Linked DNA regions of Homo sapiens. The protein of the gene in region 1 purifies or fractionates together with the protein of each later gene. This does not show direct contact. Each region holds a gene or a part of one and is shown in the gene's direction. Other genes may lie near its edges.

What was found.
Region 2: the proteins of SULF2 (region 1) and NOS1AP purify together in Homo sapiens (affinity purification with mass spectrometry; one large-scale study listed by BioGRID and IntAct). This does not show direct contact.
Region 3: the proteins of SULF2 (region 1) and TXNDC11 purify together in Homo sapiens (affinity purification with mass spectrometry; one large-scale study listed by BioGRID and IntAct). This does not show direct contact.
Region 4: the proteins of SULF2 (region 1) and DCAF1 purify together in Homo sapiens (co-immunoprecipitation; 2 studies listed by BioGRID and IntAct, with this or other methods). This does not show direct contact.
Region 5: the proteins of SULF2 (region 1) and UBR1 purify together in Homo sapiens (affinity purification with mass spectrometry; one large-scale study listed by BioGRID and IntAct). This does not show direct contact.
Region 6: the proteins of SULF2 (region 1) and PRKACB purify together in Homo sapiens (affinity purification with mass spectrometry; one large-scale study listed by BioGRID and IntAct). This does not show direct contact.
Region 7: the proteins of SULF2 (region 1) and POTEE purify together in Homo sapiens (co-immunoprecipitation; one large-scale study listed by IntAct). This does not show direct contact.

The regions. Positions count from the first base shown.
Region 1 is NC_000020.11:47,656,906-47,660,193, reverse strand, and holds the end of SULF2 (extracellular sulfatase Sulf-2 isoform a precursor), read left to right. Parts: intron 1-463; coding exon 464-497; intron 498-741; coding exon 742-795; intron 796-1,801; coding exon 1,802-1,832; 3' UTR 1,833-2,788; downstream 2,789-3,288. UniProt on the Homo sapiens protein: Exhibits arylsulfatase activity and highly specific endoglucosamine-6-sulfatase activity. It can remove sulfate from the C-6 position of glucosamine within specific subregions of intact heparin.
Region 2 is NC_000001.11:162,363,191-162,366,690, forward strand, and holds part of NOS1AP (carboxyl-terminal PDZ ligand of neuronal nitric oxide synthase protein), read left to right. Parts: exon of another isoform or gene 1-2,159; coding exon of another isoform or gene 2,160-2,213; coding exon 2,214-2,379; intron 2,380-3,500. UniProt on the Homo sapiens protein: Adapter protein involved in neuronal nitric-oxide (NO) synthesis regulation via its association with nNOS/NOS1. The complex formed with NOS1 and synapsins is necessary for specific NO and synapsin functions at a presynaptic level.
Region 3 is NC_000016.10:11,694,358-11,697,857, reverse strand, and holds part of TXNDC11 (thioredoxin domain-containing protein 11), read left to right. Parts: intron 1-3,500. UniProt on the Homo sapiens protein: May act as a redox regulator involved in DUOX proteins folding. The interaction with DUOX1 and DUOX2 suggest that it belongs to a multiprotein complex constituting the thyroid H(2)O(2) generating system.
Region 4 is NC_000003.12:51,420,016-51,423,515, reverse strand, and holds part of DCAF1 (DDB1- and CUL4-associated factor 1), read left to right. Parts: intron 1-1,084; coding exon 1,085-1,209; intron 1,210-2,518; coding exon 2,519-3,500. UniProt on the Homo sapiens protein: Acts both as a substrate recognition component of E3 ubiquitin-protein ligase complexes and as an atypical serine/threonine-protein kinase, playing key roles in various processes such as cell cycle, telomerase regulation and histone modification.
Region 5 is NC_000015.10:43,096,039-43,099,538, reverse strand, and holds part of UBR1 (E3 ubiquitin-protein ligase UBR1), read left to right. Parts: intron 1-3,500. UniProt on the Homo sapiens protein: E3 ubiquitin-protein ligase which is a component of the N-end rule pathway. Recognizes and binds proteins bearing specific N-terminal residues that are destabilizing according to the N-end rule, leading to their ubiquitination and subsequent degradation.
Region 6 is NC_000001.11:84,182,271-84,185,770, forward strand, and holds part of PRKACB (cAMP-dependent protein kinase catalytic subunit beta), read left to right. Parts: coding exon 1-58; intron 59-1,766; coding exon 1,767-1,865; intron 1,866-2,829; coding exon 2,830-2,912; intron 2,913-3,500. UniProt on the Homo sapiens protein: Mediates cAMP-dependent signaling triggered by receptor binding to GPCRs.
Region 7 is NC_000002.12:131,212,536-131,216,035, forward strand, and holds part of POTEE (POTE ankyrin domain family member E), read left to right. Parts: intron 1-3,500.

The DNA.
Region 1 (3,288 bases):
CCTCATTTTATGGAGGAGTAAGGTGAACAAGGTGGGCTGACCCCGGAGCCCACGCACTTGATCCTGCCACATCCTCGGGAAAACTTCCCCAGAGCCCAAAGGGGAACTCCCTCCTGCACTTGGTCAGGGCTCTTGGCTTTCTGTCCTCTGGAGCACAGATGTTCATGCCTGCATCTACCTCCCTCACCATAACTAAGGTCAGCGCTGAATGAAGCCATCAGGGTCCTGAAACTGATCATGGTGACACTGGATTTTAGGCAATCTACAAGGCTATCTAGGAGACTTAGGGCAGGTTCCCCTCATAATTCAGTCTACCCCTCATAATTCAGTCTACTCTGAGTAGGGAACACTATCAGCATCATGGGATTGTGACAAAAAAGCATAAGATGGTTTTCTGGTGTGTTGGGGTTGTTTTGCCTAAACTATCTGCTCCTGTTTTGTTTTTCATTTCTCCTTCATTTAGGACTTAAAGATGGAGGAAGCTATGAGCAATACAGGTATTTCGTTTTATTATTAAAGCCTAAACAAAGTTCTCCTATCTTGGCCCATCCTTCAGTCTCATCTCTGTGAGTCTGCACCTGTTATCTTGAGAAACTGCCCTTCCCTCTGGTCTGCCCGAGACCAGGATCACCCACCAAAGATAGGTGTCACCTAGGAGACCTTCTTTGTATAGTTCTTTGGGGACTTTTTCTTTCTTGGTGATGGTTAACATTCATTCTCCTTTGACACTTGAAAACTTAGGCAGTTTCAGCGTCGAAAGTGGCCAGAAATGAAGAGACCTTCTTCCAAATCACTGTGAGTTGAGGAACCAGCTTACAAATAGAAATCTGGTTCTGACCGCTTCATTTTGCCAATGCTATTCTATTTGCATGCCATTTCTTACATACCACCCTTTGTTTGTTCTCATGATGAGGGTGGGGGGGAAGTACTAATGCACATCTTTCCCTAAGAAAACACTTGAATCCATTTCATGTTTTAGATTAATGCCTTGTCCAGTACACTGCTGTTCTCGCTATAATCTGTGCTTGGTAAACTTGAGCTATTACTTAGAGGTTGAGAAGCATTTAAATATTACAAATTGCTAGGCATCTTGAAGGCTGTGGCTACAAAAGTGCTAACTGATATACAACATCAGTAGTAGGATGGCCTCATTAAATGGTTTCCAAAAAGCCCATGCTACAAACTCTCACTCCAGTGCCATTGGAGGCTGACAGGGACTAAGAGACTGGCAACCTGTAAAGTTCACCTCTATTCTAAAGGGAGCAGGCCAGTTTGCTCCCTGCAGGAATGGGCTGAGGTTCGCCAGATTTTCTCATTCGTCTACCAAATCCAAAAATGCAAGTATGTGTGAGAATTCTTTATCATTATCATCTAATTTGACATTAAGTTAACCATGTGGGCAAATTATCGCCCTTGGTGAACTGCCACTTGCAACCTCTGGTCTACTCATTTCTTCCTTTATATGCATATAAACCTGTGTGGCTTTAATAGGACATTAGTAACAGGTCACCTAAGCCTTTCTTCGGTGCTTCTAGAATTAAGGTACAGAATCTTTACATATCACAATCTCCTTAGCCACTATTCTGTCCAGATCCTTAAATGCCATCCTTGCCAGGCATTGGGTGTATAAGTAAACAAAAAATTGAGGTGACTAGGTGGTGGCAATCCCGTTCTAAGTAACCTAGAAATATTCATTCTCAGCAGCCTTGAAGCAAAGCTTCCTCAGCTATAGGACCGATTAGGAAGTCATGATAAAGACCATGATAGCTAAGTGCTAAGATGAGTTTGTTTTGTTCTTTAGGGGACAACTGTGGGAAGGCTGGGAAGGTTAAGAAACAACAGAGGTGGACCTCCAAAAACATAGAGGCATCACCTGACTGCACAGGCAATGAAAAACCATGTGGGTGATTTCCAGCAGACCTGTGGTATTGGCCAGGAGGCCTGAGAAAGCAAGCACGCACTCTCAGTCAACATGACAGATTCTGGAGGATAACCAGCAGGAGCAGAGATAACTTCAGGAAGTCCATTTTTGCCCCTGCTTTTGCTTTGGATTATACCTCACCAGCTGCACAAAATGCATTTTTTCGTATCAAAAAGTCACCACTAACCCTCCCCCAGAAGCTCACAAAGGAAAACGGAGAGAGCGAGCGAGAGAGATTTCCTTGGAAATTTCTCCCAAGGGCGAAAGTCATTGGAATTTTTAAATCATAGGGGAAAAGCAGTCCTGTTCTAAATCCTCTTATTCTTTTGGTTTGTCACAAAGAAGGAACTAAGAAGCAGGACAGAGGCAACGTGGAGAGGCTGAAAACAGTGCAGAGACGTTTGACAATGAGTCAGTAGCACAAAAGAGATGACATTTACCTAGCACTATAAACCCTGGTTGCCTCTGAAGAAACTGCCTTCATTGTATATATGTGACTATTTACATGTAATCAACATGGGAACTTTTAGGGGAACCTAATAAGAAATCCCAATTTTCAGGAGTGGTGGTGTCAATAAACGCTCTGTGGCCAGTGTAAAAGAAAATCCCTCGCAGTTGTGGACATTTCTGTTCCTGTCCAGATACCATTTCTCCTAGTATTTCTTTGTTATGTCCCAGAACTGATGTTTTTTTTTTAAGGTACTGAAAAGAAATGAAGTTGATGTATGTCCCAAGTTTTGATGAAACTGTATTTGTAAAAAAAATTTTGTAGTTTAAGTATTGTCATACAGTGTTCAAAACCCCAGCCAATGACCAGCAGTTGGTATGAAGAACCTTTGACATTTTGTAAAAGGCCATTTCTTGGGAGTTTTTTGGTGTGTCTGTTTTTTTAAAGTATTCAAGATACTACCAGTCAACATCTTTTTGGAAGAAAATGCCTTGGGTTTAGAAGATTTTCTTAAAAGGGGAGTAGATGGTTGTAGATTGACTAAAAAGTCTACCATACTTCAAGGGACTACAGGTAAGTCTCATAGTATACCAGCTTTGGTACTTCATTTTTTAAAAAAGTATTAATCAATTGCAAAGAAATTCGCCTTGGCCAACCCTTCTTTGTGTATCAGGTAGTCTAACCTGATACAAGTAGTTGACAGATTTCAACTATCAATCACCAGTCCAACCCATTTCTCATTTAACAGATGACGGAGATAATCCCTAAAAGCACCCACATTTGTTTCAATGCCCCAAACAGGCCAAGGCTCCCTAGCAACTCCCTAGTGGCGTTTTTTAACTTCTCAGAAACTGTTACCATTATTTGAAATAGGCTTCCTTAACCTCCTTTACCCTTAACCCAACAGGGATTTAAAAAA
Region 2 (3,500 bases), on another chromosome or scaffold:
ACCAAGTGGCTATAAATTGGTGTTCCCACTACCCTCTCCTTGGACTCAACTGATTTGCTAGAGCAACTGACAGAACTCAGGAAAACACCTACATTTACTGGTTTATTTTAAAGGATATTATAAGGGATACCAATGAACACCAGATGGAAGAGATGCATAGGGCAGGGTCTGTGGGAAGGGTGGCAGAGCTCCCATGCCCTCCCAACGTGCACCACCCTCCAGGAACCTCTAAATGTTCAGCTGCCCGGCAGCTCCCCACACCCAGTCCTTTTGAGTTTTTAATGGAGGCTTTATTATGTAGGCATGATTGATTACATCATTGGCCACTGGTGATTAGTTTAACTTTTAGCCCCTCATCTCCTGGAGGTTGGGGCGTGGGACTGAAAAATCCTATCCTCTAATCATACCTTGGTCTGTCCTGTGAGCAGCCCCCATCCCGAAGCTTCCAGGGGTTCCCCAACCACTAATCATCTAATAAGCATACAAAAAACACTCTTACCACTCTGGAGATCTCAAGGGTTTGGGGAGCTATATGTCAGGAAACAGGGATGAAGACCAAACATGTATTTCACTGTATCACACCTGTTCTCACCCCTCCCCAGATCTTCTCTCAATTAATATGAGACAAAAAAATGAGTCTGACTTCTTGACCAAAATATCAGTTCTGTCCTTAGCAGCTTTATGGAGGACAGATTTAGTTTAAATTCCTTAGGCATTATGCCCCTGTGGCTCCACTCAATCAGAAATAGGGTCAACGGCAAGGTCAGGGCCTCCAATCTGGGCAAGAGGGAGGCAGCCACGGTATCCACAAGTGTAATTCTCTGAGTGCTGGTTGCTGGGAGGGGCACACCCTGGGCCAGCAAGTCACTTGGCCAAGGGTGGCCAACTGTGAGGTAGCACTGCCCTTTACTCCCTAAAAAAATGTGAATCTCTTTGGAGCAAACTCCTCTTCAGAAATTTGAGCACTTGTTTTCTGAGCAAGGGAATCAGCTAATGCTTTTGACTCCCCATCCATCTTCCTGCATCCTCGTCCCACCTCTCCTGCCCCCACTCACCTGGCTCTGTCTTTACCCACACCATGGTTTTGGTACAAGAACACCCTTTTCCCCATAAGCTACATTGGTCCAGGCCATAAAAATTCATTAGTTCCCTTTCTTCAGGGGCCTTCTGAAATGCTCCCTGGAGAACTCTTTATTCACTTCTTTGCACAAGAATCACATATGTGTGAACACTGGTATTGGCCTTCTAACTCAGTTTCTTCAAACCAGGGTCCTGGTCTGGTTGCCCCTGTCTCCTCCCACTGAGTTTTATCTCCACATAAGTATTGCTCACCAAGAACAGAGCTGTTGACACCACTGGGCCTCAAGCATGCTGAATGCATTGCTGCCAACTGCTCTGCCTTAAGAAGGTTGGAAACTGATGAGGGTGCCACAAATTGTTCACCTCAGCCCTTCTGGGCTGGTTGGAGGAGGCCCTCTCATGAATCAGTCAGCAAATGTTTGACCCCTACCAGGTGGTCCTGGTAATATGTGGTATGAATCATGGTCCTAGATGTCTGCCATAGCAAATAAAAAAGGAAGACAGGGAAAGAAGCTGTCGCCTACAGAGTGGCTTGATGACAGCTGCCTCACTAATTTAAAAAGCCATGTGTAGTGCTTCCTATTTCTCACTATGTTTGGGTGAGTGGGAGAGGGAGAAAGATTATATGGGCTTCGTTGTGACACTGTTCTTAGCCAGTGGGTCAATAGATGAGTTTTGGTTTTGTTTTTTAGAAGACAGGATGAGAAGAGAGTGCCCCCTTCCACCTCCAACATGGCATGCCATGCTAGGTGCTGAAGGAGTTCTCTAAGCAGGGATGGAGCACCGTGCGTGTGTGTGTGTATATGTGCACGTGTGTGTGTACGTGTGTGTGTGTGGCAGGTCTAGAGGGTCGATGGCTCTTTCCTGCCTCTTGCCCTTGGTATGGGTACCTTAGTGATGCATCATGGCCCTCCCTTAGGACACACAGCTTCGCAGTGCCAGTGAACCCACTCCTTTTGGCTCCTCCTCTGGAATGATAAGCCCAGATGCCCATGCTGCCCGTGAAGGGCTTCTTCTTGAACTGAATGTGGAGGGCATCTCTGGTCCCGGCCATCTGCCAGTGACTCTCATGTGCATTCATGTCCCTCTCTTCTCTCTGTCCTGTCTTCTCTGCCGCTGCCTCTTCTCTGCAGGTACACTTGCTGAAGGACCAGTTGGCTGCTGAGGCTGCGGCGCGGCTGGAGGCCCAGGCTCGCGTGCATCAGCTTTTGCTGCAGAACAAGGACATGCTCCAGCACATCTCCCTGCTGGTCAAGCAGGTGCAAGAGCTGGAACTGAAGCTGTCAGGACAGAACGCCAGTAAGCCAGTGCCCTGCCCAGCCCTGCTTCCTCTGTGAAGGCTCTGGAAAGAGTGTCACTTTCCTTAAGTTTTTGGTGGTGCTTTCTTGGACCCCTGACCTACCCCTATATTCCAGCAGAAAACATAGGCAGCTTTGTTTTCCCATTAGTATACTTAATGAATTACAGAATCACATGCCCAAAGGAGATCTCGGGTGCCTTCTAATCCAGGCCCAGGGCTGGACTTTGAATGTCCCCGGAGTCACTGCTATGTGCTCATCCAGTCTCTATTTGATAGGGGCTCAGGTACTCTGTGTTCTAGGGCAGCCCATTTCTTTCTCAGAGAGCTTTTGCAATCAACAAACAGTATACTTGGCACCTATTGGGTGTCATGGTCTCTGTGAGCTCTGTGGGAGACAGCAGATTGTTTCTTAGTTTACTACTCTGCACTATGTATTTCAAGACTCTGTCACACAGAAAAAGCTGGGAGCAGTATATCTGTTCAGTGGATAAGGCAGTGGAATCTGGCTGCACTGCTCTGCTGGGCAATAGCAGAGGTTGCCTGGCCCCTGCTTGAGAAGCTGTCTCTACACTCAGTACCCCTGGGCTGGGCTGGGCAGCTGTAGATCGCAACACATTTTCACGCCTTCCTCTTGAGCCTTTCCGTGGGTTGTTTGCATGCTCAGAGTGTGTGTGGGCTGTGGACCAGCAAATAGCCATTGATCACATATTGTGCCAGAAACTGTGATAGAATTTTTTGCCTGTGAGCTCATTTAATCCCTGTAGTTCTGCTGCAGAAAAATGGGATGCCATTTTACAGATGAGGTAACAGACTCAGGGAGGTTAAGTAACTAGCTCAAGGTTATAGGCCTAGCAAGGAGCAGAGCCAAGATTCAAACCTAGATCTGATTGCAAAATTTTGTTCCAACTATACCAGTGGTTCCCCCAAACCATCCCATGAGCTCTTTTAAAAATGCGTCTTTCCTACTGAGATCCTACATCGTTCTGTCTAGGGCTGGTCTGGGAGCCTGTATTTTTAAAGTAGCCCAGAGGTGTGGATTGGAAACCAGTGCCCTTCACCACTCTGGAAGCCTCTCTGGATTTTCCAGATTGTTCATTGAAACTCTGCTCTATCCTAATTA
Region 3 (3,500 bases), on another chromosome or scaffold:
GCCCTTCTAGAGAAGGACCAAATGCCCTCTTCTGATGTGGCTGCTGTTGAGCTTCCTGTTTAGGGGGTGAAACAGGGAGTGGCAGGAACACAGGCCGAGTTTAGTGTGGCCTAGGAGATGCCATTGTCTTGGGGGTTTGGCCAGACTGCCAGCCCTGGCCATCCTCAGGACAGCAGAGGAGAGCGAGCAGCAGCAGCGATGTTGGGACACCTTGTTTCTCTGAACCTTCCCTGTCGTGCAGAAGCCAGAGTGGTTTTCAGAGGCAGCGCCATCGGAGCCTGCTGTTCCTGCCTGTCTTCGGCTTCATCTGGTGCGCCTGCTCTGGGCGTGAGTTTATTTTCCACACGGAGCATTTGGAGGCGCTCAGAGACAGCAGGCACATTTTGCAGAGCGAGCCTGGAGAGACAGCAGGCACAGTATGCAGAGCGAGCCTGGGGTGGCAAAATTGCATTTACTGAGGTTTTTATTTTTTCACTCCCTCAAGGATCCCTTAATTGGCCAAAACCAATTTCAGACAGCCAGTGTACCACTGGCCAGCTAAGCAGACCTGAGCCCCTCAGCGCTGGCCTGGCCTCCTGCCTGGAGGGACAGGGAGGCAGGACTTCTCGCCCAGGTGGATCCCTCCCTTTGCTGTGCTGGAGTCTTTTTGCTCAAGTTATGATTCCCTCTGGGGAGTATTCTGAATGAATGCTGCTCTTTGGTTTAGAGGAAGAAAGAGGAGAGAAATGAAATAGCTTTGTTTCTTCCCCTCTAATTAGGGAGGACTCAAAGTAATAAAACTATTTCTTTAGAAAATTTTCACTACATGGATATTTTGTGAACTGAGGCACCATTTCAAATGACTAGGCCTTTACTGTATCTAATATTAAGAGCCTTAAAGCTCATTGTAGGAAAGGAAGGTTTTCGGTCAAGGTGGTGTGGCTGTGGTTGTGGATTTGGAGAGTTCTCTCCTGTCTGGTTTGGGTGTGTCAGGGTCCTGGCTGGGTTGTATTTTGTGGCAGGAGCCCACAGCCTCTGCCCAGAGGGTTGTGGTTGGATTTAGGCACCTGGTGGGAAGACTCTTTCTCGCCTGTTGTTTCTGAATGAGTGTCCCCTCCAGCAGTCTGCAAATCCTCCACCTACCAACAGGCCTCCTTTTTATCATGGTTTTGCCTGTGACTCCTTTCTTTGGGGCTCCCATTGTCTCTGTGAGGTGAGTGCGTTCCCTTAACTTCAGCATGTGGGTGAGATGACCGAACACGAGGTGGCATCTCACCGTATTATGAATTACTCAGACAAGCAAAGTGCCTGTCCAGCACATTTCCCTTTTTGTTTCAGGTCAGTTTGGCAAATGTTTACTGAGCACTGTGCTGGGAAGCTCCAGGGGAGAAAGGATAGATGCGACACCATCTTGTCCTGTGGTCTTAGAGGCTTGTCCAGTACAGGGAGTGAAAGCCTGCCTATAATTCAAAGTAGAGGACGATCAGGCCCAGGGTCAGGAGGAACCAGAGGAGGGAGGGTGCCATCTCAGAAAGCGGGGTTCCGGGCAGGGGAGGAGTTAGCAGAGGCTTTGGATGGGTGAAGTATTCGAGACGGACTTGTAGGGGCAGCCAGGATCTTGATGGGTTGAGAAAAACTTACGGGAAGGAGGACCCTGAGCAGAGACATGAGGGACGGGAGTTGCTGCAGGTTTAGGTGTTAGGAAGGAGGCCGGGTTTTGTGGTCTGCAGGAAGGGCTAACTGGGGAGAGATCTTGAAAAAGCCTTTGGAGGAGAGGGCCTTGTGGACTTCTCTGAGGATTTCAAGATTAACCATAGTCATCCAAGTCTTTGTCTTCTCTTTTTTTTTTTTTTGAGTTAGGGTCTTCCTTTGTTGCCCAGGTTGGAGTACAGTGGCATGATCTCGGCTCACTGCCTCCTGAGCTCGGGTGATCCTCCCACCTCAGCCTCCCAAGTAGCTGGGACTACAGGTGCACGCCTCTACGCCTGGCTAATTTTTGTATTTTTCTGTAGAGATGGGGTTTCGCCATGTTACCCAGGCAGGTTTCAAAAGCCCTGGGCTCAAGCGATCGGTCTTCCTTGGCCTCCTAAAGTGTTGGGATTACAGGCATGAGCCACTGCACCTGGCCCATACAAGTCTTACTGACAGTGAAGAGATGCAGCCAGGGCTGTGCGTTATCATTACGAACGTTTTTCTGGCAGGAGGGTTCCAGAAAACTGCGAAGTAGTAAGAACCTGAACTTGGGTGGTAGAGGTGGAGGGTGGAAAGTAGGGTCTATGATCGGGGAAACTGTGACACAGTGACTAGAGATGAAGAAGCCTTTGGGTAAGGTGGGAAGGATGAACGCTGTACTTACGCAAGATGAGCTGTAAATTCATTAGCTTGTTGACCACGAAAGAGTTAGGTGGCTTTACTTTTTCATTACCACCTTAGGCCTAATATTGGGCAGAACTTTGAGGATGCTTGCATTGTTGAGAAGAGAGAGGTCATCTTAGAGTGAGTGGAATAGAGTTGGGGGCATACCAAGCACCAACATTCTGGACAGTTGTGCTGTGGTGCATGTAGGATGCCAGTCAGGAGTGACCATATGGTGGCCGCACCAAGCCCATAGTGGGTAGCTGCTTCTACACACATGCATACCTGCATGTGTACCCACACACACATGCAAAAGTACAGATCCTGACACTGGCGTGAGGCCACTGACACCCTGGTGTCTCTAGAGAGTTCTAGAGAGGTTATAAGACATCACAGTGTGTATTACACAACTTGTTAATCAAAGGAAATGCTTACCTCAGCCAGCAAAGAGTCTTCGTGACTTGTTTCCTATTTTAAAGGTGTTTATTTGAGGCATTCACATCGTCTGAATCTGGTAAGCAAAGGCGTGGTTAGCATGTTCAGGCTCACAGATTTCCCTGATTAAAGAAAATAGAAGGAAACATCTACTGTGCGAACAGTTATTTGCCAAGATTTCCTTAATTATTCACATGAAATAAATGACATCAAGTGATACACAGAATGTGACATGAGTTGTGTTTTCAAAACTGCCTGTTAGGTAAAAGGAATAGAAACATAAATTCCCCTTCATAGGAGAAAAATGATAATGCCTAACTCTTTAAGAGCATTGCTGGCTGGGCGCAGTGGCTCACGCCTGTAATCCCAGCACTTTGGGAGGCTGAGGAGGGTGGATCACATCACCTGAGATCAGGAATTCAAGACCAGCCTGGCCAACATAGTGAAACCTCGTCTCTACTAAAAATATAAAAATTAGCCAGGCATGGTGGTGTGCGCCTGTAGTCTCAGCTACTTGGGAGGCTGAGGCAGGAGAAACGCTTGAACCTGGGAGGCAGAGGTTGCAGTGAGTCAAGATGGTGCCACTGCCCTCTAGCCTGTGCAACTGGAGCAAAACTCCGTCTCAAAAAAAAGCATTGCTGGTCGGGCGCGGTGGCTCATGCTTACAATCCCAGTGGGATTACAGCCCTGGGAGGCCGAGGCAGGTGGATCACCTGAGGTCAGGAGTTCGA
Region 4 (3,500 bases), on another chromosome or scaffold:
TTTTTTTTTTTGTGGAGACAGAGTCTCTCTCTGTGGCCCGAGCTGGAGTGCGGTGGCTCAATCTCAGCTCACTGCAACTTCCGCCTCCTGGGTTCAAGCAATTCTCCTGCCTCAACCTCCCGAGTAGCTGGGACTACAGGCGCCCGCCACTAAGCCTGGGTAATTTATTTTTTTAATTTTTATTTTAGTAGTGACAGGGTTTGGCCATGTTGCCCAGGCTAGTCTTGAACTCCTGAGCTCAGGCAATCTGCCCGCCTCAGCCTCCCAAAGCACTAGGATTACAGGCATGAGACCACGCCTGGCCCTGGCCTGATTATTTCTTTAGGACAGATTGTCAGAGGTGAAATTTCTAGGACAAGGTTTATGAACATTTTAAGAATCTTGTTTCATATTTCCAGATTACTTTCTTTTTCTTCTTTTTTTTCATTTTTCTTTTTTTTTGTTTTTCGAGACAGGCTCTCACTCTGTTGCCCAGACTGGAGTGCAGTGGTGTAATCACGGCTCACCACAGCCTCAACTTCCTGGGCATAGGTGATCCTCCCACCTCAGCCTCCTGAGAAGCTGGGACTACAGGCACGTGCTACCACACCCGGCTAATATCTTATATTTTTTTTTTATAGAAAAAGATAAAACCATGTTGCCCATTCTGGTCTCAAACTCCTGGGTTCAAGTGATCCTCCCACCTTGGCCTCCTAAAGTGTTGGGATTATAGGCTTGAGCCACCGTGCCTGGCCTCCAGATTACTTTCTGGAAAGAGTGTACTAATTTCTACTCTCACCAAAACTTTGAGAGTACGTGTCTCTATATGTTTTCACTAGGATGAAAGGATTCAGGATTATTCTATGTTTTTTATCATAGAAGTTTAATAGGTAAAAATTCCATTGCTATATTTTTTGGAAGTAATGTCATGGTGACTATAAAATCCTCTCTTGATGCGACAGCTTGAGATAGAGCCACACTGGTAGTGCTTCTGATTTATTGTCTCTGTGTGTATGTGTCTATCTGTCTGTGTGTCTCTCTCTCTGTCTCTCTTGATTCTTGTGGCTATACTCTAATTTCCCTTTGACTAATTCTTCCTGTCCAGGAATGACACTGTGCGCTTTGCTTTGGATGTCCTGGCTATTCTTACTGTGGTGCCAAAAATCCAGCTCCAGTTGGCAGAATCAGTGGACGTGTTGGATGAGGCTGGATCTACAGTCTCTACTGTAGGTAGGTTGTACTTTGCCATTTTTGTTGTTTCTTGGTCTGGATTTGTTTTTTCTTTGCCACTCTGGTCTTGGTTACTTACCTGACCTAATTTTGGATTTTAGAACAGAAGTAGTAGAGGGGGGCTCCTTGTCTGTCCTTTATAAGGAGTACCATTCAGCAGATCAGGAACTAATTTAAAAAAAAAAACCAAAAAACAAAAATACAAATGTAGGACCAGATAGTTTGATGTAAGGGAGTCATGCTAGTAAACTCAGGTTTTCTGAGTGGTACTGGCATTTCTGCTATAATGGTATATTATAGCTTTCCTGAAAAGCTCACACTCTGAAGAGTCTTGCACTAAAAATAAAGTTCATGGGAAAAATGGGTTGAGGCAGATAGTAAAAAACTTAAGCATCACAGCTTTCCAGGAGTTAAAGGGAAAAAAAAACAACAAAGTAAGCAGTTTTGTAACCTGAGTCAGTAATTGGCAGGTAGCTCAAAATGGGTAGAAACCGTCATACATATATAAAAAAAGGAAAATATACTTTGATAATATACTTTATTAAGAGCAAGGCTGATCAGGGCACTGCTGGGGTGAGCATGGGAAGTCGTGTGATGGGACAAGATGCAGGATAGGACTAAGACACAGGCACTTGGTTTTTAATTTTCTTAAAATAGAGTGGAAAGGGTTCTGCTTCCACAGTAGCAGCCCAACCGAGGGCTTTCTCCGTTCCTAAGGTTTTAGTGTATTAAAATTAATAAACCAGAAAAGGTCGAGCACAGTGGCTCACACCTGTAATCCCAAAACTTTGGGAGGCCGAGGCGGGTGGATCACCTGAGGTCAGGAGTTCCAGACCAGACTGGCCAACATGGTGAAACCCCACCTCTACTAAAAATACAAAAATTAGCTGGGCGTGGTGACAGGCGCCTGTAATCCCAGCTCTTTGCAGGGATGAGGCAGGAGAATCACTTGAACTCGGGAGGCGGAGGTTGCAGTGAGCCAAGATCACGCCACTGCACTCCAGCTTGGGCGACAGAGCGAGACTCTGCCTCAAAAAAATAATAAAACCAGAAAAAATTGCACATGAACCTTGATTACTTTTCCATAATTATGACATGATTTCCCTATTTAATAACTGCATATGAGATACCATAAAAATACATTGTAGTAGAACTGTCTGCACTTTATACAAACCCTTGCAGTTTTTACAAAAGTAATATAGTTTTTTAAAGTAAAAGTGAGTAGAACACCAAATTTTGACTCTGGAACAACTATTGAAGTTGGCCATTAGTTTTATGGTGAATAATACATAATTTTTTTTCCCATTAGGTATCAGCATTATTTTGGGAGTGGCTGAGGGTGAGTTCTTCATCCATGATGCTGAAATTCAGAAGTCAGCACTTCAGATTATCATCAATTGTGTGTGTGGCCCAGATAACCGAATATCCAGTATTGGTAAATTTATCTCTGGTACTCCTCGGAGAAAGCTGCCTCAGAACCCTAAAAGCAGTGAGCACACCCTGGCCAAGATGTGGAATGTGGTTCAGTCCAACAACGGCATCAAGGTGCTCCTGTCCTTACTGTCCATTAAGATGCCCATCACAGATGCAGACCAAATCCGGGCCCTGGCCTGCAAAGCCCTAGTGGGCCTGTCTCGCAGTAGCACTGTCCGGCAGATCATCAGTAAACTGCCCCTTTTCAGCAGCTGCCAGATCCAGCAGCTGATGAAGGAGCCTGTGCTGCAGGACAAGCGCAGTGACCATGTCAAGTTCTGCAAGTATGCTGCTGAACTCATTGAACGGGTGTCAGGAAAACCACTTCTCATTGGCACTGATGTTTCCCTAGCACGACTGCAGAAAGCAGATGTTGTTGCCCAGTCAAGGATCTCCTTCCCTGAGAAAGAGCTGCTTTTGTTGATACGAAACCATCTTATTTCTAAAGGGCTTGGAGAAACAGCAACCGTGCTGACAAAAGAGGCTGACCTGCCCATGACTGCTGCCTCCCATTCTTCTGCCTTTACCCCAGTCACTGCTGCTGCTTCTCCTGTCTCTCTACCCCGAACCCCTCGTATCGCTAATGGCATTGCAACTCGTCTGGGCAGCCATGCTGCTGTGGGTGCCTCTGCGCCTTCTGCCCCTACTGCTCATCCTCAGCCACGGCCCCCCCAGGGTCCGCTAGCTCTGCCCGGCCCATCTTATGCAGGCAACTCCCCTTTGATTGGTAGAATCAGTTTTATCAGAGAGAGGCCATCACCCTGCAATGGCAGGAAAATCAGAGTGTTGCGGCAGAAGTCGGACCATGGTGCCTACAG
Region 5 (3,500 bases), on another chromosome or scaffold:
GGATAAATTTTAACAAATGTATATACTTGTGTGACTACCACCAAATCAGGTTATAGAATATTTCTGTTATTTCCCAAAGTTGTCTCCTGCTGAAATGGGAGGATTTTTTAAAAGTTTAATATTGTTATGGTTACGCAATAATCATTATGGAAATCAAAGAAAAATGTACCCATAATCTCATATCTGTAGGGGAACTTTTTTTTTTTGTTTTTTTGGAGACGTCACCCAGGCTGGAGTGCAGTGGTGCAATCTTGGCTCTCTGAAACCTCTGCCTCCTGGGTTCAAGCAATTCTCTTGCCTCAGCCTCCCGAGTAGCTGGGATTACAGGTGCACACCACCATGCCCACCTAATTTTTGTATTTTTAGTAGAGACGGGATTTTGCCGTGTTGGCCGGGCTGGTCTCAAACTCCTGACCTCAGGTGATCCACCCGCCTCAGCCTCCCAAAGTGCTGGGATTACAGATGTGAGCCACCGTGCCTGGGCTATAGGGGATCTTTAAAATACAACATAATCTCTTGACTTCAATATAGAAGTGAGGAGTTATATGTGATTTTAATTGGAGATGATTTTCCTTAGAAATTTGAATCTATATTGTTTTAGGCCAGAGCACAGTTTTGTGTAGTAAGGACACACTCTGAGTGGGAAAACTGATGAAAATGTAGGTCTTTTGAGTCTAACTGAAGTACTTTGTCACCAGATCTTAGCAAGACCTAATGGCTTTTGTTTTTTCACCATCTCATAATTTCTATTTTGGGGAGTTAGGGAAATTTTGATTTTTTAATGCCAGATTCTATAGAATTAGATGTGAAATTGAGTTCTAAAACTCTAAGTCAAAATGACTGATTCAGCCCCACTAACTAAGAGTCTAGGGAAGGAACAGTAACTTAGTGTAGATGTGCTAGTGCTGGAAACTGACTTCTTATAATACCAAACATCCTGCAAATGAAAAGGTTTTTGTCCTCAGTACTGCACAAAGAGTGTGTCTGGATAGATACTTTTATAAATCAGTGATACAGATGAACCAGTGAAATACAGGCATACCTTATTTTATTGAGCTTTATTATTGTGCTTTGTAGATAATCAGTTCTTTACAAATTGAAAGTCTATGGCAACCCTGTCTCAAGGAAGCCTTTCAGTGCCATTTTTTCAACATTGTGTGCTCACTTCGTGTCATTGTGTCACATTTTGGTAATTCTCACAATACTTCAAACTTTTTCATTATTATATCTGTTATGATGATCTGTGATCAGTGACCTTTGATGTTACTATTGTAATTGTTTTGGGGTGCCATGAACCACATCCATAAAAGACAGCAAACATAATAAAAAAAGCTGTGTTTGTTCTGACTGCCCCACTGACCAGCTACTTATCCATCTCTCTCCGTCTCCTTGGGCATCCCTATACCCTAAGATGGGACAATACTAAAATTAAGCCAGTTAACCCTACAATGGCCTCTAAGTATTCTAGTGAAAAGGAAAGTTCAACATTTCTCACTTTAAATCAAAAGCTAGAAATGATGAAGCTTAGTGAGGAAGGCTGTTGAAAGCTGACATAGGCCAAGAGTTATGCCTCTTGTGCCAAGCAGTTAGCCAAGTTGTGAATGCAGAGGAAAAGTTCTTGAAGGAAATTAAAAGTGCTACTCTAGTGAACAGACAAATAATAAGAAAGTGAAACAGCCTTACTGATGATGTGGAAAAAGTTTTAGTGCTCTGGATAGAAGATTGAACCAGCCACAATATTCCCTTAAGGCAAAACCTAATCAAAGAGCAAGGCCCTCACTCTCTTCAGTTCTCCGAAGGCTGAGAGAAGTGAGGAAGCTGCAGAAGAAAAGTTGGAAGCTGGCAGAGGTTGGTTCGTGATGTTTAAGAAAAGAAACCATCTCCACAACATAAAAGTGCAGCGTGAAGCAGTAAGTGCTGATTGATGGAGAAGATGCAGCAAGTTATGCAGAAGATCTAGCTAAGATAATTGATGAAGGTGGCTACACTAAACAGATTTTCCATGTAAACGAAACAGCCTTCTGTTGGAAGAAGATGCCATCTAGAGCTTTCATAGCTAGAGAGAAGTCAATGCCTGGCTTCAAAGGACAGGCTGACTCTCTTGCTAGCGGCTAATGCAGCTGGTAATTTTAAGTTGAAGCCAATTTCCATTTACCATTCAGAAAATCCAAGAATACTTAAGAATTATGCTACTCTGCGTATGTTGAATAAATGGAACTAGAAAGCCTGGATGACAGTACATCTGTTATAACATGATTTACTGAATATTTTAAGTCCACTGTAGAGAACTGCTGAGAAAAAAAAAAGATTCTTTTCAAAATATACTGCTTATTGACAATACATTTGGTCACCCAAAAGCTCTGATGGAGATATACAAGGAGATAAATGTTATTTTCATGCCTGCTAACACAATATCCATTCTGTAGCCCATGGATCAAGGAGTAATTGCAACTCTCAACTCTTACTATTTAAGAAACACATTTCATAAAACTATAGCTTTCATAAATTACGATTCCTCTGATAGATGTGGGCAAAGTCAATTGAAAAACTTTTGGAAAGGATTCAGCATTCTAGATGCCATTAGGAACATTCATAGTTTGTGGGAGGAGGTCAAAATATCAACATGAACAGGAGTTTGGAAGAAGTTGATTCCAACCCTCCTGGATGACTTTGAGGGGTTCAAGACTTTAGTAGAGGAAGTAACTGCAGATGTGGTAGAAATAAGAGAACTAGAATTAGAAGTGGAGGTTGAAGTTATGACTGAATTGCTGTAAACACATGATAAAACTTAATGGATGAGGAATTGTTTCTTCTGGATGAGCAGAGAAAGTGGTTTCTTGAGATGGAATCTACTTTTGGTGAAGATGCTGTGAACATTGTTTAAATAAGAACAAATGATTTAGAATATTCCATAAACATAGTTGATAAAGCAGCCGCAGAGTTGGCAAGGATTGACTCCAGTTTTGAAAGAAGTTCTGCCATTGGTAACATGCTATCACATGCTACAGAGAAATCTTTTGTGAAAAGGTCAATCAATGTGGCAGACTTCATGGTTGTCTTATTTTAAGAAATTGCCTGGCCGGGCGCGTTGGCTCACGGCTGTAATCCCAGCACTTTGGGAGGCCGAGGTGGGCGGATTGCCTAAGGTCAGGAGTTTGAGACCAGCCTGACCAACATGGTGAAACCCCATCTCTACCAAAAATACAAAAATGAGCCAGGCGCCTGTAATCCCAGCTACTCGGGAGACTGAGGCAGGAGAATTGCTTCAATCCGGCAGGCGGAGATTGCAGTGAGCCCAGATCGTGCCACTGCACTCCAGTCTGAGGGATAGAGTGAGACTCTGTCTCAGAAAAAAAAAAAAAAAGAGAGAAATTGCCATAGCCACCCCCACGTTTAGCAATCACCAACCTAATCAGTCAGCCATTAATATTGAGGGAAGATCCCCCTATCAGCAAAAAGATGACAACTTTCTAAAGACTCAGATGATCATTAGCATTTTT
Region 6 (3,500 bases), on another chromosome or scaffold:
GGTAAAACACAAAGCCACTGAACAGTATTATGCCATGAAGATCTTAGATAAGCAGAAGGTGAGTGTATTTGTTGTTATTTACCTTCAGGGTAAACTTTAGTTTTATCAGCTAGACTATTAAACAGATTCAGTATAATGACTTACCATTGACAGCTTCAAATAATTTTATTATTAAATTTAATTTTTATTGTAACTAAATTTTTATTGTAACTATATTATACATAGTTAGTATACAGTCAGCCCTTCCATATCTATGGGTTCCACGTCCATGGATTTAACCAATCACAGATTGAAGATATTTGGGAAAAAAATTACATCTATACCTAACATGTACAGACTTTTGTTTCTTGTTATTATTCCCTAAACAATACAGTGTAACAACTATTTACATAGCATTTACAATATATCAGGTATTATAAGTAATCTAGAGATGATTTAAAGTATATGGACAGTGTGTATAGGCTTTATGCAAAGCCTCTGTCATTTTATATAAGGGACTTGAGCACCTGGGCATTTTGGTTTCTGCTGTAGGTCCTGGAACCAACCCCCAGGGATACTGATGGACAACTATAATTTATTGTGACAATTATGGACTAATTTGTTTTGTAACTATTACAGAAGTTAAAATGTGTACAGTAGTGATCCAACCACTTCATGTTACAAATTTTGAAAACCTGAGGCCCAAAGATTTGAAATCATCTCAAGTCAGAAAGTTAGTTAAATAAAAGGCCTAGATTAAAACACAAATCTGACTCCTACTCAATTTATTTGCTCAATATTATCAGTATACTCCTAATTTTATATATTAATACCTGGCTGGTATCTTTAATTACTTTTGTTATTTATATTTAACTTCTTGACTTCTGTGACTATCCTCACATTGACCATTAGACTCCAGCAAGAAAGAATGCCACCTTCTAATGATTTACACATATACAAGAAAATTATTTATATGTCTTGCTAAAGTCACCACTTCTTAAATTCAAAATAGAATCACATATGGAATAGAATCACAGTCTTCGTGAAGTCAAGATAAATTACTTTCCCCTTCTATTAAATAGAAAATCTAGAGGAAGCTTAAGTCTAAATGACCTAGGATACAAAGATAGTTTTTGTTATAAAGATAGTTTTTTCCCCAATATTTTGTGTGTCCTCTTCTATGGCAATATAAAATAAATTTTTAGAATTTATACCTATATTTATTTAGATATTATAAAATGAAAATTGTTCATTTTTACTCACTATTTTTCAGTTATGGACTTTCTCTTCATTTTTAATTTTCTTATTCATCTTCTGAAGTATTTAAAATCACTATCTACTTATTGCAGAGATTTGAGCCAGCTTTTATAGAGGACTTTAAGTCATTAGGACCTTAGTATTTTCACATTCATTTTTAAATTACCTTAAGTAATTATATATTTATTTAAGCATAATTGACATAACTAATTTTTAAAGTAATTTCTTATGAGTTTGTTTCTTATTCCTACTTAGCTCTCACTTCTTAATTGAAACCATAATTGACCTTCCTAAGACCAAGTTTTAAATCCTCTATTAGGTTTTCATTTGAATCCTATTATTAAAAGTAATGGCAAAAACCGCAATTACTTATGCACCAACCTAAAAGTTGGTAATTGTTATTATCTTCCTTATCCAATTCTAACAATTTTGCTTATCCAAGTTTATTACTATATGGAAAACATTTTTTTAAATGATAACTTTTTAATTTTGCTTAAATACATTAAGAGATATTTATCTCTCAATTACAGGTTGTTAAACTGAAGCAAATAGAGCATACTTTGAATGAGAAAAGAATATTACAGGCAGTGAATTTTCCTTTCCTTGTTCGACTGGAGTATGCTTTTAAGGTAAATTTTAGTAATATCTAAATAAGATATTTTCAACCTAAATTTTTTTTAAGATGAAACTATAAATGGATTCTAAACCAGATGATAAGCCTGAAGAATATGAATAAACAAAACGAATACCTCTAGAGTTTGTGTAATTAAATCCTATTGTGCTTATAACTTAGGTAACGTTTGAAAAGGTTTTGATTCTCCCTGGGGAAATTGTTCAAAGGTGATACTCATGAGATGGTATTACAAAAAGAAATATTTCAATTTATCAAAAACCATAGGGATATCTTAATAACAATTCTTATGCAAATTCATACACCCAACACATTTTCTACTTTGATTAAGCCCTTTTTGCCACTATCTCATCTTCTTTTACTTAGTAATTTGAGTTCTAGTCTTTTCACTTATACAAAGCAAAATTTTTGTTCCACTATTCAAATGTCTGAAAAATTGTACCACATTTATTATTTAAATTGGTCACTTTTGAGCTCTTTGGAATGATACTGGCATCTCTCTGCAATATTGAATCATATGAAACATTTTAATCTTTTTTCTCCTTTATTCTTTAAATTAAATGAAGACCTATGTATTTAAAATATTAAAACCATTAATCTTTTATACATAAAATGTAAATATTCTTATTAACTTTTTAAATTGTTTTTTACCTTTGTTATTCTTTTGCATATATTATAACGTTACTTCATTGCCTGAGTATTTAATTGTTTGAGAACTAGATGTTCTCTGCAAGAAAAGGAAGAGCAAAAGTCCCAGACTAGTTTGTGGCAAAAATAACTAGGAGGGGAAAAATATGAGTGTCTCTGTATAGAAAAGCTAGAGCATGTTCCATTTATTCTTTATTTCTCAAGGTTATTAATCTGTCAGAGAGATTTTAAATTTTTCTAATTCAGCATTATATAATATTAAAATAATTTTGACCTAAGTTGAATAATTGTATTTCCTTTTTATTTGTTCATAGGATAATTCTAATTTATACATGGTTATGGAATATGTCCCTGGGGGTGAAATGTTTTCACATCTAAGAAGAATTGGAAGGTTCAGGTAACTAATGGTTTTGCTTTCTTCAAATCTTTATATGCTTGTGTTGTTTAACCAGATTTTTAAGTTGATGCCAATGCCAAAAACTTATTTTGTTTGATTAATATTTTGGCCATATGAAGCATTAGGTGGAAACAAAGAGGCCACATCATACACAAGTTTTAATATAAAGAATATAAAAATTTAATATAAAAAAAGGACTTTGAAGCCAATTTAAATGTTATACTACTGCTAGATATTGTGAGGGTCCACTACTTGAAGAGTTTTCAGAAAATGGAAAAATTAATTGAATTTTAAAATATCAATATTTATTAAACAAAGATTAATAATACAACTCCAGGACAGAGGATTGTTTTAAGGATGAAGATGGAAAATAAATATATAGAGAAATAATAATAATAGTATTATGGTAATAAGATTATAAAAGTTTGTTTTTCACAAATTTAATTCTCCTTAAAGTTCTTGCTAAGTTTAGTTTTTAAAATATACACATAATTTAACGGGAGTTTGTACCTCATCAGGTTATGACTAATAAGATCTCAGAGTTATTAAAATAGGTTATAGAATCTGATGGTTTTACCTGTACTTAAT
Region 7 (3,500 bases), on another chromosome or scaffold:
CATTTTCTCTGCCACCATTTCCTTTGTTTTCTTTCTTTTTTTTTTTGAGATGGAGTTTTGCTCTTGTTGCCCAGGCTGGAGTGCAATGGGGCGATCTCGGCTCACTGCAACCTCCGCTTCCTGGGTTCAAGCAAGTCTCCTGCCTCAGCCTCCCGAGTAACTGGGATTGCAGGCATGTGCCACCATGCCCAGCTAACTTTGTGTTTTTAATAGAGATGGGTTTTCTCTATGTTGGTCAGGCTGGTCTTGAACTCCCGACTTCAAGTGATCCACCTGTCTCAGCTTCCCAAAGTGCTGGGATTGGAGGTGTGAGCCACCACGCCTGGCTCTCTGCCACCATTTTCAAGAGTATTGCCATCTGCCTGAGCAAACCTGGTTCATCACCACCTCTTTGCAAGAGAAAAAGGAAGTCGGGAGAATTGTGTGTAATTTTTTTTTTTTTGAGATGAAGTCTCGCTCTTGTCCCCCAGGCTGTAGTACGATGGCCCGATCTTGGCTCACTGCAACCCCTGCCTCCTGGGTGAAAGCAGTTCTCCTGCCTTGGCCCCCTGAGTAGCTGGGATTATAGGTGCCTGCCACCACGCCCGGCTAATTTTTGTATTTTTAGTAGAGATGGGGTTTCACCATGTTGGCCAGGCTGGCCTAGAACACCTGACCTCAGGTGATCCACCCACCTCGGTCGGCTGTGTGTATTTTAAGGCAAAGATTCACAACCAAAAACAAGGCTTTATTAACTTTTGTATCTAAGAACCTGCAGTGTCGAGCCCTCTTTTATTCCTAGTATTACTACTTTAGGTGTGAACTTTTTATCTTTATTTTACTGATTCCTCTAGAAGTTTATGCATTTTCTTGACTGCTTTAAAGACAATCTATATTGTATCATTTTTCAAGCCCGTAGAAATGTGTAAGGCCTATAATTTGAACACTTGTTATTTTTAAGGTTATGAGCATGTAATATACCATTGATACATGGAAGAATATGTATAAATACCACTAGATAGGTTATATTGAAGAGATAATATCTAAATTTTTGTCCAGAGTTGATGGGGTGCAGTTTTGTAGGTGTGTTTCTCAATACATTGTGTCCATGTTTTAAAGCATATAGAAATTTGAATACTGTTTAACCTCATATAGTCCTTGTTTATAGGTTTAATATTTCTAAAGACTAAAGACGTCACAGCTCCCTTTAAGATTCAGTAATACTAATAAAATTTGAGATATACAGGGTTAGAGTCCAACAAATTCAAAGGAAAATTGTTGAATTATATAGCCGTAGAGCAGGAATGAAACCCAGGTTCTAAGTTCCAAGGGGGCCATGAGCTACCATACAGGTGCATCAGTGACTGGGCATAGAGTTGGCAAAATTATTTAAGAGAGTGAGCTGTGGATCCTAATTATGTGAACATGAATTTTTGAACTGCATGGTGCCTCAGTTTATCCATCATTACAGTGGGGACAGTAGTAAGTTTTTCTTTTTCTGCTCAGTTGTCTGAATTATTACCCCAGTCTCTCTTGTTGCCACTCTTGATGCCCACATGAGAGGATCTAAGGTAATTTCTGACAACCTGGGACTCCTTAAGGAAAAACAGAAGGTTCCACAAACCCCATTTTAGGAGAAACCTCTGTTTTCCTCATGGAACCCCAAGAACTTTAAGCAGACAGGTCCCTCTCAAAAATCTAAGGCTCTCCTCTGTTTTGCCTTGCGTTGTCTGACCTTTTTGGTTTGGATGGGCATCAGAAATTAGTAGGGGAGAGAGATCTAAAGAAAATTGTGGATATGAAGATGTATTTATTATAAGAAATGTTATGAAGGAAAGAAATGTTATATGAGAGAGGATCTTATATGGCAAATTGTTGTCCTAAAGTAGAATGACTAATTACAAAAGAGGGAAATACAGGACAGGTCAGATAAATTTAATCATGTCGTAGATAGTCTGTGGAAGTTGTGTTATGGTTCATAAAGTGGGAAAGAAAAACTGAACAACTGCTAGATCTTTTCTTGTCTAGAAGTGTTGTGTATGTGATGTATATATAATGGCTCGGCTTAAAAGAAAATGAAAGCTCTTAAATATTTTGTAAGAAAAATAGAAGCTCTAATGCCTTTTATTTCATGTGACTTCAGTAATCTTTGGGAAATAAAGATGGTGTTAAAGTCAGTGGTAAAATAAAAATATCTTCAAAATTTATCCATTTGGTCTAATTTAAGTCAGAGGTTAAGTTTTAGAAGTGCTTTAATGTCATAAATTGATGCTTTGACTTTGGAAAATAGTTTTGTTTACCTGGTTTGGAGCCGTTAGATTTCTAGGTAAGGTCTCCGGACAGGTGGAGTTAGCCATGTCTCCTAGCTATGCTGGAAGGAGTCAGATTTTATCTGCAGTTCTGTCTTGTATCCTAGACTCTGCACCTGGTATGCAATTAAAACTTACTGCTGCTGCTAATCTCTGGGTTCCATTTAAAATCCTTCCATCACATGAATACTATCCCCTGTACTAAATTTTTCCACAATTAAATACTTAGAATCATTTTTGCTGACTTGACCCAACCATTAGTGATATATTTTAAAAATGCTTATAATGTGTCACAATATATTTAGCAAATGTAGGGAATGACATTTTTACTTTCTTCAGCATTTACATAGCATTTATGTAGCAATGCTATCTCAAGTATTTTTAATCATTTAAACGTTAGATAATAGATATGTTTTTGATTCCTTTTTTCTATGTAAATAAATATAATTATGAGATATTTAGTAAATAGTATCAATTGCATATGTCACTTACAGAATATACAATGCAATTAGGATTATTTTTATACACTACATCATATTTACTTGTTGGCTTTACAATAACTTAGAAATAGTATTCTGGATTAACTGTGTGACTCATGAGAGAGGGAGTTTGTGCAATTATAGTCTTTACAAATTTTTACTAGATTTTTCAAGACTTACGCTAGAACTTTGAGAACAAGGTAATAAATAAGCATATCTGTTAATATCACCTTTGGTCAACTCTTGGCTAGACCCAATGATAATGTAGGAATTAACATAATTTTTCTACTAAAGGTGTTGGATTTGTTCCGAGAGACCACAGTTCAAAGTCATTGACAAAGAAAGTTTAAAAATTGTTAGATTAAAACCTTTTAGTGTGTTTGAAATTGTTTTGTAGAAAAATATCCTGGTTTGCATTGATAGGTTTTTTTTTAAATAACAACTAGACCAAGAGAAAGGGAGAGTAGTGATAAATGTCCATGTTTTCGAGTTGAAAAGTAACAATCAGTGTATTACAACAGATGGATTTGATGTCAAATTACAAATGCTGAGAACGTTATATGTAACTGACTTGCCAGAGTAATTATACAAGGCAAAGAAAGGAAAGGCATCTAAATAGGAAGGGAAGGGGTGAGATTGTCTGTGTTTTAGACTCCACAAAAAACCCATTACAGCTGATAAACACTATATTCAATAAAGTTGAGAGTTACAAAATTAACATTGGTTTCCATAC